2 separate regions of the Homo sapiens genome follow, and region 1 is linked to region 2. The links come from fine-mapping of genetic effects on gene expression. A gene starts in region 2. The other region holds a variant in brackets. All regions are shown on one strand. Distances are between the middles of the regions.

Region 1 (8,334 bases), 180 kb before region 2:
AGATCAGAGAATTTAAAACTGTAACTAGGCTAGTCTCCTCACCTTGCAGTATCTCACCCTATCGGGTAGTCGTTGAAACAACACTGAGAAAGAAAGGCTCACAAAATTTTGATTTACACACATGCAACTTAATCTTGACGACACGTAAGTACCCACTGCACGTCCCTGAAAACGCATCGACTTGATTCTTAAATACAACCCCTATGTCTAATATACTGGCAGTGCAGATACACTACGTGAACACAACGGGGATGGAGGTATATCTCAGAGAACCAGAGGCGTTAGGCCTGCTGGTAATCAAAACGGACAGCTAACTGAAGAAGTCCCGTTTTCTATCCCCACAGCAAACTGAGTTAACTAAGGCATCACTTGGAATCCTCAACTCGCAACCCCAAATACACCCAGACTTAAGGATGCAAGGCCCCTACAAAGCTCTCAGGAGGCGAGTCTCTCGTCCACACCAGGTGCACCTACTCTAACCCTAGCTTCCTTCTCGGACCCTACTCTGGCCCCTCGGCTCCCCGCACCGCCATACCTGGGGGCGCCCCCAGTACTGCATCCCCTTGCTTCGCCCCCACCCCTATCACTTCGTCACTCACCCTGAGTCACCGGAGCCGCCCGCCCGCCCAGCCCAATCCGCCCACAACACCTCCAGCCCCTCACCCTCCCCTCCTCCAGGCCGAGTGGAGCCGGCCTGTCCCCTCCCGCCCACCGCCCTGTCCCAGGACACTCACCCGCGGTAGTAGGCTTTCACCCGGACCTGGTGGGAATGGTCCCCGCTGCCGCCGCCTGCGACCGTGTGGGACATGGTGCTGCTGTCCCTCTGGGTCGGCATCTCCTCACTCCCCCGCCTCAACGCTGGAGGCCGGGGGTGCGGGGGGGCGCTTCGGGCGCCGTGGGGGACTCCGCCGCCTGCGCTTGCCGGAGAACCGCGGCCGTCCGCCCACCTACCTGCCCACCTCGCCCGCAGCGCCGACCCAAGGGTCGCCTCGCCGGAGCAGCCGGAACCGCGCGGCTCCTCCCACTGCCCGTAGGCGCCGCCGCCTCTACAGCCGCCCGGGCCCAAGACACCTCCTGCGTCGGTCCCTCCCACTTCGCTCGCTCCAAAGGCCCACATTCCGGGGTAGGGCGGGCGCAACCATCCAGCCAGCTCAAGGAGCCTCAATACCGGGCTGAACCATCCTTACGGGGGCAGAGAAAGGGGACAGAGGGAATGGGAGACGCTGATCATGGCATCAAACACGCCGAGAGGGGTGCTTTCACGCGAGCTGTGAAAGAGACAATGACCAGCTCTAGATCACTAAAGTCTCTTCCCTGCAGGGACAATGGTAGGGACAAATTCTACGACACCTCACCCTAGCCTCGCAACTTGGTCACGTCTGCGGTCGGCCGACTTGGCACCCGGGATAGATTTGCGTGCAGGTTTCTGGGATTTGGAGTCCTCATAGGATTCTGGGACTTGAGGTTCCTTGCGCGTAGGGTGCCGCGCCTTCCCGCTGGTGAAGTCTGTCTCTCCAGCGTGCTCCCTGGAGCTGTCGGGGTGGAAAACCTGGATCCAGCTTGGGCATCTGAAGGTCCTGGAAATGACTGGGCTTCCTCACGTTCTAGACTTTATTAACTGATGAAGTCTCCCTTCTTCTAATTGCATAAATCGTCTGAATTATACATGTCTTTTGGGGGAACAAGAATTTGGTTACCTGCTCAGCATAACCTCTTTTATGGAAATAATTTAATAACATATGTAACAAATATAATAAAGGAAGAAACTCAACCAGAAAATATGATGAAAAACCGATTTTTCTTCTTTGGGGGCCCCCATATCTAGGCCCTTGTAGACTGCCCTTGCATGGAACAAGAGCCCAATGAATACTTACCCAATCAAGTCAGTCAATCCAAGAGCATTTCATTCTGTAAAAACTGGCTTACCAAAGATTAGAAAGAATCGTCCTTGGCCGGGCGCGGTGGCTCAAGCCTGTAATCCCAGCACTTTGGGAGGCCGAGGCGGGCGGATCACAAGGTCAGGAGATCGAGACCATCCTGGCTAACACGGTGAAACCCCGTCTCTACTAAAAACACAAAAAATTAGCCGGGCGTGGTGGCGGGCGCCTGTAGTCCCAGCTACTCGGGAGGCTAAGGCAGGAGAATGGCGTGAACCAGGGAGGCGGAGGTTGCAGTGAGCCAAGACTGTGCCACTGCACTCCAGCCTGGGCGACAGAGCAAGACTCTGTCTCAAAAAAAAAAAAAAAAAAAAAAAAAAAGAATCGCTCTTGTAACCTAGTCTTTGACTTTCCTAGGATCTTGGCTCTGACACATAATTTACACTGCAACTACAGGTAGCATGAATCCAGCCCCTGCAGCAGTCCTGGTGCTGAAAGAGTTGGAATAATCAAAGAAATAGCTTTCTTTACGATGATAAAATAGGCTTGGGGGACTGAGTCATCAGTTATGTGTGACACTTCAGCGTGGTACGACATCCTCCAACTGCTACAGACTTGGATTATATACTCTTACTAAAAATTCCCCTTGAGTCAGGCAAAGTGCTACATGCCTGTAGTCCCAGCCTTTGAGAGGCTGAGGCTGGAGGATCACTTGAGCCCAGGAGTTCAAGGCCAGCCTGAGCAACATGGTGAGACCCCATCTCTTAAACAAACAAAAAAATCCCATTGAAAAACTTGGTATCAGGTTTTTCAGTAATTGGAGACCTGCATCAGCAAGTTTAATACGGAGCGATTAATTATGGAATATATTATAAAATATACGGGCACCTGTAATCCCAGCTACTCCGGAGGCTGAGGCACGAGAATCGCTTAAACCCAGGAGGCAGAGGTTGCTGTGAGCCTCTGAGACTGCACCACTGCACTCCAGCGAGACTCCGTCCCTGGGCAACACAATGCACAGTGAGATCCCGTCTCATTTTTTTAAAAAAAGATAATTCACATGCCATACAACTTACTCATTTAAAGTGTAAAATTTGATAGTTTTAAGTATCTTCACAAAGTTTTGCAACCATCACCTCTACCTAAATCCAGAGTATTTTCAGCACCCTGAAAGTAACTGCATATCCATTAGCAGTTACTCCCCACTCTCCTCAACCTCTGGCAACCAATAATATATTTTCTGTTGCTATGAGTTTTTCTATTCTGAACATCGCTAGTAGCTGGGACTACAGGCATGTGCCACCACACCCTGCTAAATTTTGTGTTTTTTGTAGCGCCGGGGTTTTGCCATGTTGTCCAGGCTGGTCTCAATCTCCTGGACTGAAGCCATCTGCCTGCCTCAGCCTCCCAAAGTGCTGAGATTACAGGTGTAAGCCACCATACCCAGTGAAGGTTTCAGTTTTTTTTAATGTCCTTGCCAATACTTGGTTTTTTTCCCATCTTCTTTATCATAACCATCCTAGTGGTTGTGAAGTGGTATCTCATTACAGTTTTGATGTACATCTCCCTAATGACTAATGATGTTGGGTATGTTTTCGTGTTTTTATTGGCCATTTATATATCTTCTTGGAGAACTATCTATTCAGATCCTTTAATCATTTTTAAATTGGGTTGTCTTTTTTCATTGAGTTGTAAGAGTTCTCTCTTTTCTTTTTTTTTTCTTCAAGACAAGATCTTGCTCTGTTGCACAGACTGGAGTGCATGGCATGATCACAGCTCTCCAACTCCTGGGCTCAAGCGATCCTTCCACTTCAGCCTACTGAGTAGCTAGGCCCATAGGCATATGCCACCACACCCAGCTAATTTGTTTTTCTCGTTTTTGTAGAGACTAGGTCTTCCTATAATGTCAAGGCTGATCTTCAACTCCTGGGCTCAAGTGATCTTCCCACCTTGACTTCCCAAAGTGCTAAGATTATAGGTGTGAGCCACCATGCCTGGCCAGAGCTCTTTATATATTCTGGAAATACATCTCTTATTAGATTATTTGCAAATATTTTCTCCCACTCTGTGCATTATCTTTTCATTTTTTTAATCTTTTCATATTTTTGATGGTATTATTTGCAGCATAAAAATTTTTAATTTTCACGAGGTCTAATTTATTTTGTTGTTGTCA[C/T]GTATGGTTTTTGTTTGTTTTACTGTGTGCCAGACTATATGTTATATATGTTTTTAGTGTCATGTCTAAGAGGGCTTTGTGTAATCTAAGATCATGAAGATTTACACCTATATTTCCTTCTAGAAGTTTTATAGTTTAAACTCTTACTTTTTAGCTTATGATCCATTTTGGGTTAATTTTTGTGTCTAATGTAAGTGGTCCAAATTGATTTCTTTGCATGTGGATATTCAGTTATCCCACCATCATTTGTTGAAAAGACTATTTTTCTCCCATTTAATTGTTTGCACAATTGTCAAAAATCAAATGACCAAAATTTAAGGGTTTATTCCTGGATTTTAAATTCTATTCTATTGATTGATTTGTCTATCCTTTGACAATAATCACAGTGTCTTCATTACTGTAGTTTTTTAGTAACTTTTAAAACAAGGAAGTGTGAGTCTTACAACTTTTTTTTTTTTCAAGAGTGTCTTGGCTATTCTGGATCCCTTACATTTTCATGTGAATTTTAGGATCAACTTGTCAATTTCTTTAAGAAAGCCAGCTGAGATTTTGATAACGATTGCCTTGAATCTGTGAATCAGTTTGTGTGGTTTTTGTCATGTTAACAGTATTAAACCTTCCAATCCATGAACATGGGATAACTTTTCATTTATTTAGGCAGCTTCAATTGCTTTCTCATTTTCAGAGTATACATTTTGCACTTCTTTTACTCTTAAATATTTTATTCTTTATAATGCTATTGTAAACAAATTGTTTTCTTAGTTTCCTTTTTGAATTATTCACTTCTACTATAGAGAAATGCAGTTGATTTTTGCATATTGTTGATATTGTATTGCAGAACTTGTTTATTAGGTGAATTCCTTAGGATTTCCTGCATATAAGACTGTCATTTTTTTTTTTTTTTTTTTTGAGATGGAGTCTCGCTCTGTTGCCCAGGCTGGAGTGCAGTGGCACGATCTGGGCTGACTGCAAGCTCCGCCTCCTGGGCTCATGCCAGTCTCCTGCCTCAGCCTCCTGAGTAGCTGGGACTACAGGCACTCGCCACCATGCCCAGCTAATTTTTTGTATTTTTAGTAGAGACAGGGTTTCACTGTGTTAGCCAGGATGGTCTCAATCTCCTGACCTCGTGATCCACCCGCCTCGGCCTCCCAAAGTGCTGGGATTACAGGCGTGAGCCACTGTGACCAGCCAAGACTGTCATTTTAAAATACAGATTAAAAAACAAATAAAATGAGGCCAGGTGTGGTGGCTCATGCCTGTAATCCCAGCACCTTGGGAGGCTGAGGCGGGCGGATCACGAGGTCAGGAGTTGGAGACCATCCTGGCCAACGCAGTGAAACCCCGTCTCTACTAAAAAAAATACAAAAAATTATCCAGGTGTGGTGGTGGGCACCTGTAGTCCCAGCTACTCAGGAGGCTGAGGCAGGAGAATGGCGTGAACCCAGGAGGCAGAGCTTGCAGTGAGCCGAGATCGCACCACTGCACTCCAGCCTGGGCAACAGAGCGAGACTCTGTCTCAAAAAAAATAAAATAAAATAAAATACAGTTAGATTTATATTATCCTCTTCAATCTGGATGCCTTTTATTTCTTTTTGTTACCTGATCATATTGGCTAGAACCTCCAGTACCAAGATAAATAGAAGAAGAGGCTGGGTGCAGTAGCTCATGCCTGTAATCCCAGCACTTTGGGAGGCCAAGGCAGGTGGATCACTTGAGCCTAGGAGTTTGAGACCAGCCTGGATAACATAGTGAAACCCCACCTCTATTAAAAATAAAAACAAGGCCAGGTGCGGTGGCTCACGCCTGTAATCCCAGCACTTTGGGAGGCCGAGGCAGGTGGATCATGAGGTCAGGAGATCGAGACCATATTGGCTATCGCGGTGAAACCCTGTCTCTACTAAAATACAAAAAATTAGCCAGGCGTGGTGGCGGGCACCTGTAGTCCCAGCTACTCGGGAGGCTGAGGCAGGAGAATGGCATGAACCCGGGAGGCGGAGCTTGCAGTGAGCTCAGATCGCGCCACTGCACCCCAGCCTGGGCGACACAGCGAGACTCCGTCTCAAAAATATAATAATAAAAATAAAAATAAATAATAAAAATAAAAACAAATTAGCCAGTTATGGTGGTAGATGCCTGTAGTCTCAGCTACTCAGGAGGCTGAGGTGGAAGGAATGCTTGAGACTAGGAGGTGGAGGTTGCATTGAGCCAAGATTGTGCCACTGCACTCCAGCCTGAGCAACAGAGTGAGACCCTGTCTCAAAAAAAAATAAGTAAATAGAAGAAGTGTGGACATTCTTGTCTTGTTCCCAGTCTTACGTGCATAGCTTTTAGTCTTTCACCATTAAGTGTTATGATGATTGCTCTAGGTTTTTTGTGTGTGTCCTTTATCACATTGAGCGTCAGTCTATTCCTAGTTTGCTGTTTTTATTATGAAAGGGTGTTGAGTTTTGTTAAGTGTTTTTCCTATGTCCATTGAGATAATCATGTGGTTTTGTTTCTTATTGTGTGATATGGTGTGTTACATTAATTGATTTTTGGAGATAAGCCAACCTTGCATTCCTGGAACAAATTCCATTTTGTTATAGTGTATAATTTTTTCATATGTTGCTGGATTCAGTTTCCTAATATTTTGTTGAGAAATTTTACCTCTATACTCATAACAGATACTGGTTATTGTTCTGTAGCTTCTGTTTTTCTTGTGATGACTTTGGTTTTGGTTATCAGGGTAACTATCCTTATAGAATTAGTTGGAAAGTAATCCCTCTTCTTACGTTATTTGGAATAGTTTGTGAAGAATTAGTATTAATTCTTATTTGAATTTTTAAGAAAATTCACTAGTGAAGCCATCCAGTTCTCACTTTTCTTTGTTAAGAAGATCTTGGCCAGGCCCAGTGGCTCATGCCTGTAATCCCAGCACTTTGGGAAGCTGAGGCAGGCAGATCTCGAGGTCAGGATATCAAGACCATCCTGGCCAACATGGTGAAAACTCGTCTCTACTAAAATACAAAAAAATTAGCCAGGTGTGGTGGCGCACACCTGTAGTCCCAGCTACTCTGTAGGCTGAGGCAGGGGAATCGCTTGAACCCAGGAGGCAGAGGTTGCAGTGAGCCGAGATCGTGCCACTGCACTGCAGCCTGGCAACAGAGCAAGACTCCGTCTCAAAAAATAAAAAATAAAAAAGAAGATCTTAAACACTTCGGGAGGCTGAAGTGGGAGGATGGCTTACGCCCAGAAGTTGAAGACCATCTTAGATAATATAATGTGACCTCATCTCTACTAATAATTTAAACAATTAGCAGGTGTGGTGGCACCTGCCTGTGGTCCCAGCTACTCAGCAGGCTGAGGCTGGAGGATCTCTTGAACCCAGGCAGTCAAGGGTGCAGTAAGCTGTGATCACACCACTGTACTCCAGCCTTGGAGACAGAACGAAAGCCTGTCTCAAAAAAATAATAATAATAAGTTACTGATTCAATTGCTTTTTTTGTTATAGGTTTATTCAGATTTTCTATTTTTTTCTTGAGTCAGTTTTGGTAGATTGTATCTTTCTAGGAATTGGCCCATTTCATTTATTAATTTCTTCACATATAATTGTTTATAGTATTCTTTAATATTAGAATTTAATAATTCTTAAGAATTCTTTTTATTTCTGTGAAGTTGGTAGTTATGTTCCCTCTTTCCTGATTTTAGTAATTTGGTCTTCTTTTTTTTCTTGGTGAGTTAAAATTTATCAACTTTGTTGATCTTTCAAAGACCAATTTTTGGTTTTGTTGATTTTTCTCTATTATTTTCTGTTCTCTATTTTATTAATTTTTGCTCTAATCATTGTTATTTATTTACTTCTTGTTGCTTTAGGTTTACTTTGTCCTTCTTTTTCCAGTTTATTAGGATGGAAGTTTAAGTTACTGATTTGAGATCTTTCTTCTGTTTTAATATAGGTGTTTATAGCTATCAAAAGAAATACTCCAAACACTTCTTTAGTTGCATCTCATAAATTTTGGTATGCTGTTTTTGCATTTTCATCCATTTCTTAGTATTTTCCATTTTCCCTTGTGATTTTGTCTTTTTATAAGTGTGTTGCTTAATATGCACATATTTTTGAATATCCCAAGTTTCCTTCTGTTATCAATGTCTAATTTCATTGTGTTGTGCTCGGAGGACATGCTTTGTATAATTTCAATTATTTTAACTTTATTGAACCTTATTTTATGTCTAGCATATGGTCTTCTGGGAGAATGTTCCACATGCAATTGAGAAGAATGTGTATTCAGTTGTTAATAGGTAGAG
Region 2 (8,334 bases):
AAACCCCGTCTCTACTAAAAATTAGCCGGGCGTGGTGGCGGGCGCCTGTAGTCCCAGCTGCTCGGGAGGCTGAGGCAGGAGAATGGCGTGAACCCGGGAGGTGGAGCTTGCAGTGAGCCGAGATCACGCCACTGCACTCCAGCCTGGGTGACAGAGCAAGACTCCGTCTCAAAAAAAAAAAAAAAAAAAAATCTTTACATCCTTTAGACTAGTGAATCTACACGAGCAAGGTCTACGCCGGGGAGATTCACCGAACACTTCAACTTTTAACTGTCCCAGATCTCATCTCTTTGACTTGTTTTATCTTTAAATCAAAAGGCATTACATTCAGTTATACTGAAGCGACTAAAAAATGTGGATTTACCTTTTGGAAATATACCTCCCCTTCCTCCCTCTACTAACTTCAACAGCTCCCTCTCAGAATCACTATTCCAAAGTACTGACCAAGCATGACAGAATGAGTAGGAATTATAGGCTAAATCTGGAGAAAAGAAATCTGGAGCAAGCCTGATGAAGATATAGCTATTACTCCTTCCTTACCCTCTTTCAAGCATGATTCTTAAAAAAAATGTGTTACCACCATGCAGAACTTTTAGGAGTCAGTGCTTTGCTAAATATTTACATGTCATGATCGCTGAAGCAAACAAGATAAAGATGAAATAGGCAACACAACACAGCTAAGCTCTCTCTCAAGCAATAAGCAGCCCTCTACTCATCTTGTGCTTTGTTTTCATCATATACACTTTTTACTGAGGCATGCAATGCTTTCAGAAGTGTACATAAATCCTAAGTGCATACCGACACGTGTGTTCACTACTGCAAACTCTGTTTTTTGATGAACACAACTTGGAAGGGATTTGGGCAATTAGGAAAAACTGCTAACACGTTTTATACAATCCGCCCGACCGGAGGCAATCAACCCCCAGGCTTGCTAATGCCCTTTGTGTAAAAAAAGCTGACCTAGCCTCCACCTGCATCAACTTGATCCGCTCAGCTTTGTCACACTCAGCAAACACCCTCTGCCTTCTGAGCAAAATAAATCGGCACCTCCAGTAGGGAGAAAAAAACTTTTTATGACCGAGTCTGGAGAAGCAGCCTTGACACCCAATTTACAAAGAACGAGCGTCTGCGGAAGACCTTGCATCTAGACTCGGCTGCAGTGCCAAACCTACCTTATGCAAAAAAGCTCCACAAGTGGTGGTGTTCTGTTTAAAGGAAAATGCCAAACACACACAAATACTGAAACAATAGCATAAGGACTTCCATAACCATCATCCAGCTTCAACTATTTTTATTTTTGTTTTACTTTAAGTTCTGGGATACAGGTGCTGAATGTGCAGGTTTGTTAATAGGTATACATGTGCCATGGTGTTTTGCTGCACCTATCAACCCGTCATCTAGGTTTTAAGCCCTGCATGCATTAGGTATTTGTCCTAGTGCTCTCCCTCCCCTTTCCCCCCACCCTCCGACAGGCCCCCGTGCCTGAAGTTCCCCTGCCTGTGTCCATGTGTTCTTCCCAGCTTCAACTATTAACAATCCATGAACAATCTCCTCTCATCTTGTTCCCCTCCCTTCTCTGCTAGCATCTAAAACTGAATAATTCTGAAGCAAATCCCAAAGCTGTATTTCAACTTCAGTCTGTGTCTCTACAGGGATTTTAAAAACCTTAATCAGGATACCGTTACCAAAAGTAACTAAACAGAACTATTATAATTTCCTTGATACCATCAAATAATCAGTAGAAATGTCCTTCATCGTCTCCTTATTTATTTATTTATTTTGAGACGGAGTCTCGCTCTGCCTCCCAGGCTGGAGTGCAGTGGCGCCATCTCGGCTTACTGCAACCTCCGCCTCCCGGGTTCAAGCGATTCTCCTACCTCAGCCTTCCCGAGTAGCCGGGATTACAGGCGCGTGTCACCACACCCAGCTAATTTTTGTATTTTTAGTAGAGAAGGGTTTCACCATGTTGGCCAGGCTGGTCTCGAACCCCTGACCTCAGGTGATCCACCCACCTCGGCCTCCCAAAGTGCTGGGATTACAGGTGTGAGCCACCGCACTCGGGCATCATCTCCATTTTAAAAAACATTCATCAAATCAGGATCCAACCAACGTCCACACCTTGTATTGCCACCGAATTTCTCTTAAATCGTTTTGAAACTGCACACAGGTCCTCCTCCCTGCAATTCGCATAGCAACCAAGCTGATCCTCACTGACAATTTCCAAATAACTATAATAACTCTATTCTGGAGATATCACAAGTGCCGGTCTTAGAGCTTGTCAAATGTATACATATATGTTTATATTTATATATAAATGCACAAAAGCACACAAGAAACCATTTCACTCGAAGCAATAACAATCCTGAGAGCTAAACACTCGTTCATGTCTTTTGTGATGCTTCTCGGTGGGGGTTATCTCTGGGATTTAAGCGACACTTCCCCTTACCGGAGACATTTGCGCAAGTGTAGGACGAAGCGAGAGCGGTTCCTTCCAGCCGAACCTGCCTCCGGAGGCCCGGTCCGTGCGTTCGTCTCCGGACTGCAGGGGGCGGCCCTGCCACCACCTCGAGGCCACCTGCGCAGGTGAGAAAAGGAGTTTCAGTCTCCGGGTTCCTGGGGGTGGTCGCAGGTAATCTAGAGGGAATTTTGAGCCAGCCAGGATGGTCATCCAGGAACCTACCCGGACGCAACGGCCTCGGAAAACAAATAGCCGGGCAAGGCCCTGGGGCTTAATCCCAGTGGCGGGCGCGGGCGGGGGCGCCGTCCCCAACGCTCGAGGCCAGGGGAGGGGAGGCAAAGTCGGCCCCAATGAATGCACGCACGCGCGCGCGCGCGCGTGTGTGTGAGACTATTCACCTCTGGGCGCCAGGAAAGAGCGAAGAGTTGCATACACCCATTTCTATAACCTTGCTGGGTTTGTCATGTTTAAAAAGCATCTCCCCTGGAGAGAGGGTGGCGAGTCTCTGGGTGCGGGACACGCCCATTCCCCAGACCCCCTGCCCTCAAACCCACGACAGACCCCAGTTGCTAAGGCTCCGCGGTAATCCCCATCCCGAAGCAGGAAGGCTCGGGCGTCCGGGCTCCACTCCTGGATCTCTTAAGTAGCAGAGAACCCCCAGCCCCTGAGTTCCTGCAAAGGAAATTCCTTCCCCTCCCAGGCGCGCTGAACGCCCGGCCAGGGAGGCTGGGAGCGGCGCGGGGACCGTTCGCCGCCCCGAGGCTGGGACGCCGGTGGCGAGAGCGCCGGGCGCCCTCCACCTGCGCCCGCACTCACCCGAGGATCGATGGCTGTCGGCTCCGCAAGGTTGAGGCCCCGACACCTGCAGCGCCCGTGCCCAGGTGACCGCCCGAGGGAGGGGCGAGGGCCCAGCTCGCCCGCCTGGTCCCGCCCCGCCCCGCCCCGCCCCGCGCGCTCCCGGGAGGGGCAGGGGAGCACGGCCCCGGGACCCCGCGGCGACCCTGCTGTGGCTCAGCCGGCTCCAGACCAGGAAATGCGGGCGTCAGAGACGGGCAACCTTTGAGCGCGCACGTCCCGTCCGGGCCCAACGAAACAAGGGCCGGAGGGCGCCGCCTGCCGGCGGGACGGAAAGATATCACAGAGACTGTCACCCCCCGCCGGCTAGGAGAGGGCTGAGTTGAGGCTGGCAGAGGGACGCAGCCAGGGGTGCGCAGTGCGGGAGCCGCTTGGGGGCTCAGTGAGACCCCCTTCCTCATGCCACATCTTGAGGACCCGGCCCCTGTCCTAGGAGCTCCCCATCTCCCCAGCAGGCGGGCGAGCGGGGGCCACTGGGTCAGGGCCTCTCCTTCCCTTACCTCTGCAAATGTAAACTTGGCAGTTGTCTCCAGATAAGAGTTTACACAGGGTGGCCAGGCGGTGGCTCATGCCTGTAATCCTAGCACTTTGGGAGGTCAAGGTGGGCGGATCACTTGAGGTCAGGAGTTTGAGACCAGCCTGGCCAACATGGTCCACGTTGGTCCCCATGTCTACTAAAAATACAAAAATTAGCCGGGCTTGGTGGCACGCACCTGTAATCCCAGCTATTTGGGAAGCTGAGGCACGAGAATCGCTTGAACCCAGGAGGCGGAGGTTGCAGTGAGCTAAGACCGCACCACTGCACTCCAGCCTGGGCAGCAACAGCAAGACTCCGTATCAAAAAAAAAAAAAAAAAAAAAAAAAAAAAAAAAAAAGAGTATACACAGGGTGACAGAACTTCTTGAAACTTGTATGCTTCTAAGCAACCGCCTGCAGTGTACTGTGAATTCAGATTTTTAAATAAAAATCTGCAAATATTAAATAGCCCATATATTGCATTGCCTTTTTTGTGTCAACAGTGCTAATTTGTTGTCATTCAACAAATATTTGTTGAGCACCTACGACTTGCCGGTCATTTAAACATTTAAAATATCGAACAATTAGGCCAGCGCAGTGGCTCAAGCCTGTAATCCCAGCACTTTGGGAGGCCGAGGCGGGTGGATCACTTGAGGTCACGAGTTCAAGACCAGCCTGGCCAACATGGTGAAACCCTGCCTCTACTAAAAATACAAAAATTAGTTGGGCGTAATGGCACATGCCTGTAGTCCCAGCTACTTGGGAGGCTGAGGCAGGAGAATGACTTGAACCCAGGAGGCAGAGGTTGCAGTGAACCAAGATCACGCCATTACACTCCAGCCTGGGCAACAGAGACAGACTTCATCTGAAACAAATAAAATAAAATAAAATATTGCACAATTTCTTCCTTCTCCTCTTCACGCAGAGCCTTGAACAAGGGGAGTGTCCTGAGCCTCTCAACCTCTCTGAGTGTCATAGCAGTTAGAGATTAAAGATGACCATGTCCATACACGTTTGTATCTCTCCACAATGTCAGTCTTTTTTTTTTTTTAAATGCTATTTCAATCACAAAATCCAGGAGCTACATGGAGTTCCCAAGGAGGCAATTCTCCTTAGTCCTTCCCATTCACTCTGTAGTCAGAGCACATAGGTTCAAGCCACTCCATAAGTCAGTAAATATTGCAAACCATACATACTAGTATACTTAATCACTATACGAATGTTGTAGATTAAACATTCCACAACAAAGTAATATTTAACATCAAGACGAAGAAGAGGAGAAAGGGTTAATGAACCAGTCCAAAGGGAGGGAAGAAGACAAAGGGAGTCCTGGTCTGGGCCTGGTGGTCTTGCAAGGAAGAGTCTTTGATGTGGCAGAGCTTTCGGTGGCAAATTCTGAGTTCTTATCATGAGTGACTGCAAGACGGTGTTAGTGAAGACAGCCAAGCTGAAGGCTTCGCTCTTTTACAGTCAGAGGGTCCTCTGGTGAGAACTTATAGTGGATGAGTGTGCTTGTTTGTGTTCTTTTTTAAAATTTGTTCGTCAAGCAAAACATCTTATCCTTGTTAGCAAAGTGCCCATGAAATATAAAATGGAGGGTTTTTCTAAGATGGAATTAGTTACCTCAAGGGTGGTTTATACACTGAGAGTCTGGACTAGCCTTGCAAGGAACTCAGTAATTGCCCAAGGGTGCAAGAAGAACCCTGATAGAATTAAGTGTGGGTTGCTAGGGAGACTGAGGAGCAGCTTCACCTGGCCTGGAGTGGCAGAGAGAACTTCCTGGAGAAGTGCAGAGGCCAACTGAATCACAGAGGAGTACCGGGTTCAACGGGATGTGAGGTGCTTCCGCCAAGATTCCAACGTGTGCAAAGTGGGAAGTGGAAAGCCAGGCAGAGAGTTCATGTTCTAATAAGGGAATGGCAAGTGGGTCAGAAGACCTGAGAGGGAGAGGATGGGAGTTGAGTTAGAGCAGAGGGCATGGGGGCCAAATCATACTCATAACAAAAATAACCATCATCTAGGGAGTGGATAGTATAGAACAGGAGCTGGACATACATAACTTCAAACGAGCCTCACGCCAACCCTGCAAGGTAGGGTTATTACTCTCCTTTATAGAAGAGGAAAATGAGAGCCGGGCACAGTGGCTCACACCTGTAATCTCAGCACTTTGGGAGGCTGAGGTGGGCAGACTGCATGAGGTCAGAAGTTTGAGACCAGCCTGGCCAACATGGTGAAACCCCGTCTCTACTAAAAATACAAAAATTAGCCAGGCATGGTGGCGGGCGCCTGTAATCCCAGCTACTCAGGAAGCTGAGGCAGGAGAATCACTTGAACCTGGGAAGCGGAGGTTGCAGTGAGCTGAGATCACACCATTGCACTCCAGCCTGGGCGACAAGAGCGAGACTCTGTCTCAAAAAAAAAAAAAAAAAAAAAAAAGAAGAGGAAAATGAGACTGAGACCCAGGAAGGAGAGACATATTGCTAGTGACAAGGCTGGGGTAGGGTAGCTCTGAGCAGCCAGGCTGCCCTGTCAATGCCTCTCTCCAGGCGGATCTGGGAGGCTGGATTTATCTTCAAATACTTTCAGCATCCCCAAGTGCCTGCCACTCTCCCACCATTTCTTAAGCCGATGTCAACAACTGCCCTGAAGTCTCTCTGTCTAGAGATGATGTGTACATGGGTCCGCATACCAGACTCCTCCTGAGGGGAACTCTGTCTCAGGGGCTGGTGGAGGAACTGTGGCAGACAGAGACCTTGGTTGCTCCCCACTGTCCATTCTTTCCTTCTTCTGTAATAAAGTCATGTGCTGCAATGACATTCTGGTTAACAATGGATCACATCTACAACAGTGGCCTCACAAGGTTAGAATGGAGCTGACAAATTCCTATCACCTAGTGATATCTTGATGATACTGACCCTGTGTAGGCCTGCACCTTTGTTTTTAAGAAAAAAAGTTTAAAAGGTAAATAAATGCATTTTCAAAATGGGAAAAATAAGCTTATAGAATAAGAATAGAAGAAAATATTTTTGTACAGCTGAAACGTATTTGTGTTTTAAGGCGTATTATTACAAAAGAGTCAAAAAGTTAAAAAAAAATTTAAAGTTTACAAAGTAAAAAAGTTACAGTAAGCCAAGATTAACTTATTGTTAGTGTAGCCTAAATGTAGTGTTTATAAAGTCTGCGGTAGTGGACAGTAATATCCTAGGCCTTTTCATTCACTCACCCACAGCAACTTCCAGCCCTGCAAGCTCCATTCATGGTAAGTGCTCTATACGGGTATACCGTTTTTATCTTTTATATTGTATTTTTACTGTGCCTCTTCTATGTTTAGAGACATAAATTCTTACCGTTGTCTACAGTATTCAGTACAGTTGCCTACAGTATTCAGTACAGTCACATGCTGTGGAAGTTTGCAGCCTAGAAGCAATAGGCTATACCATATAACTTAGGTGTGTAGTAGGCTATACCATCTAAGTTTGTGTAAGTACACTCCATGTTCACAAAATGAAATTGCCTAAAGACGCATTTCTCAGAATGTATCCCTGTCATTAAGGGGCTGTAATAGAACTGAAGCTAAGCCCAGAGCTTCGTGGAACAAAGACTATCTTTCCCTGCCTCCTTGTAGCAAAATGCATCAACAGTGGTGCCCAGAGCTCCTAGAAATCCAGAGTCCAGTGGTACTTCCGAGGCGGCTTCTCCTCTCCCGACATCCCTGATCCGTCAGTTCTTTACGGGGCACTGCTAACTGCCTCCTCAAATCCATTCTCGCCTTCTTAACTTCTAAGAGAACCCAGATTTTGTACAGGGAGGCAATGTGCCAAGCTAAGATGCCCACTTTCGCGAGGTCATCGCAGGGGTGATCACATGACATGGTTCTGGCCAATGAGATGTAGGAGGAAATGGTCCCGTGACACAATTCTGGCCATTGAGATATAGGAGGACGTCAGCTGGCAAGTCCTGGGAAGGTTTTTGCTTTCCTGTTGCGGGTACTACCCCTTTTCTCAGCCTCCTGTTTCCTTCCTGCTTTGAGGTTGCTGTGAGGTTGCCTTGAGGCTGGAGGTGGAGCAGTAGTCTTAGACTCTGGGACAGCCCACAATAAAGGTGGAGCCGCACCCACCTAGCTGTGCCTAGCTCCAGATGTCTTACTACACGAGAAAAGCAACCCCCTTACTTGTTTAAGGTCAGGGTTTGTTCCATGGAATTGAATATAATCCCACTAGATATACTATTGTTCCCAAAGAAAAGCCTTGTCACCTAAAAATAAAATCCTAAGCCCCCCACCGACTGAAAAGAACCTCTCTTGGCCAAGGGGACCCCAGAAAAGCCTTAAACTGAGTTCCTGGCCATGACAAGATGGGAGGTCAACCACATCTCATTATACCCCTCCCTTTTATGGTTTAGACACAACTGACCAGCATTAATGTTAAAATAGAGATCATAAGGCTGACAGAATAGACTCTTTGTGGCAATAAGATACCACATTATAAACAGGACATAGGCCTGTG

The links.
Region 1: its variant is fine-mapped to the expression of GPR160 in whole blood (TOPMed, PIP above 0.99).

What each region holds. Positions count from the first base shown.
Region 1 is chr3:170,215,171-170,223,504 of GRCh38, reverse strand. PRKCI (protein kinase C iota) reads right to left here and starts at 1,081. Exons shown (of 18, transcript NM_002740.6): 1 at 735-1,081. The coding sequence starts at 835. RefSeq lists a silencer at 721-1,010 and enhancers at 1,191-1,350, 1,361-1,420, 1,491-1,550. The variant C/T (reference allele first, on the strand shown) is at 4,051.
Region 2 is chr3:170,033,156-170,041,489 of GRCh38, reverse strand. It overlaps GPR160 (G protein-coupled receptor 160), which reads right to left and starts at 3,495. Exons shown (of 4, transcript NM_014373.3): 1 at 3,275-3,495; 2 at 2,447-2,575. RefSeq lists silencers at 2,471-2,520, 2,681-2,730, 3,041-3,520 and an enhancer at 2,116-2,615.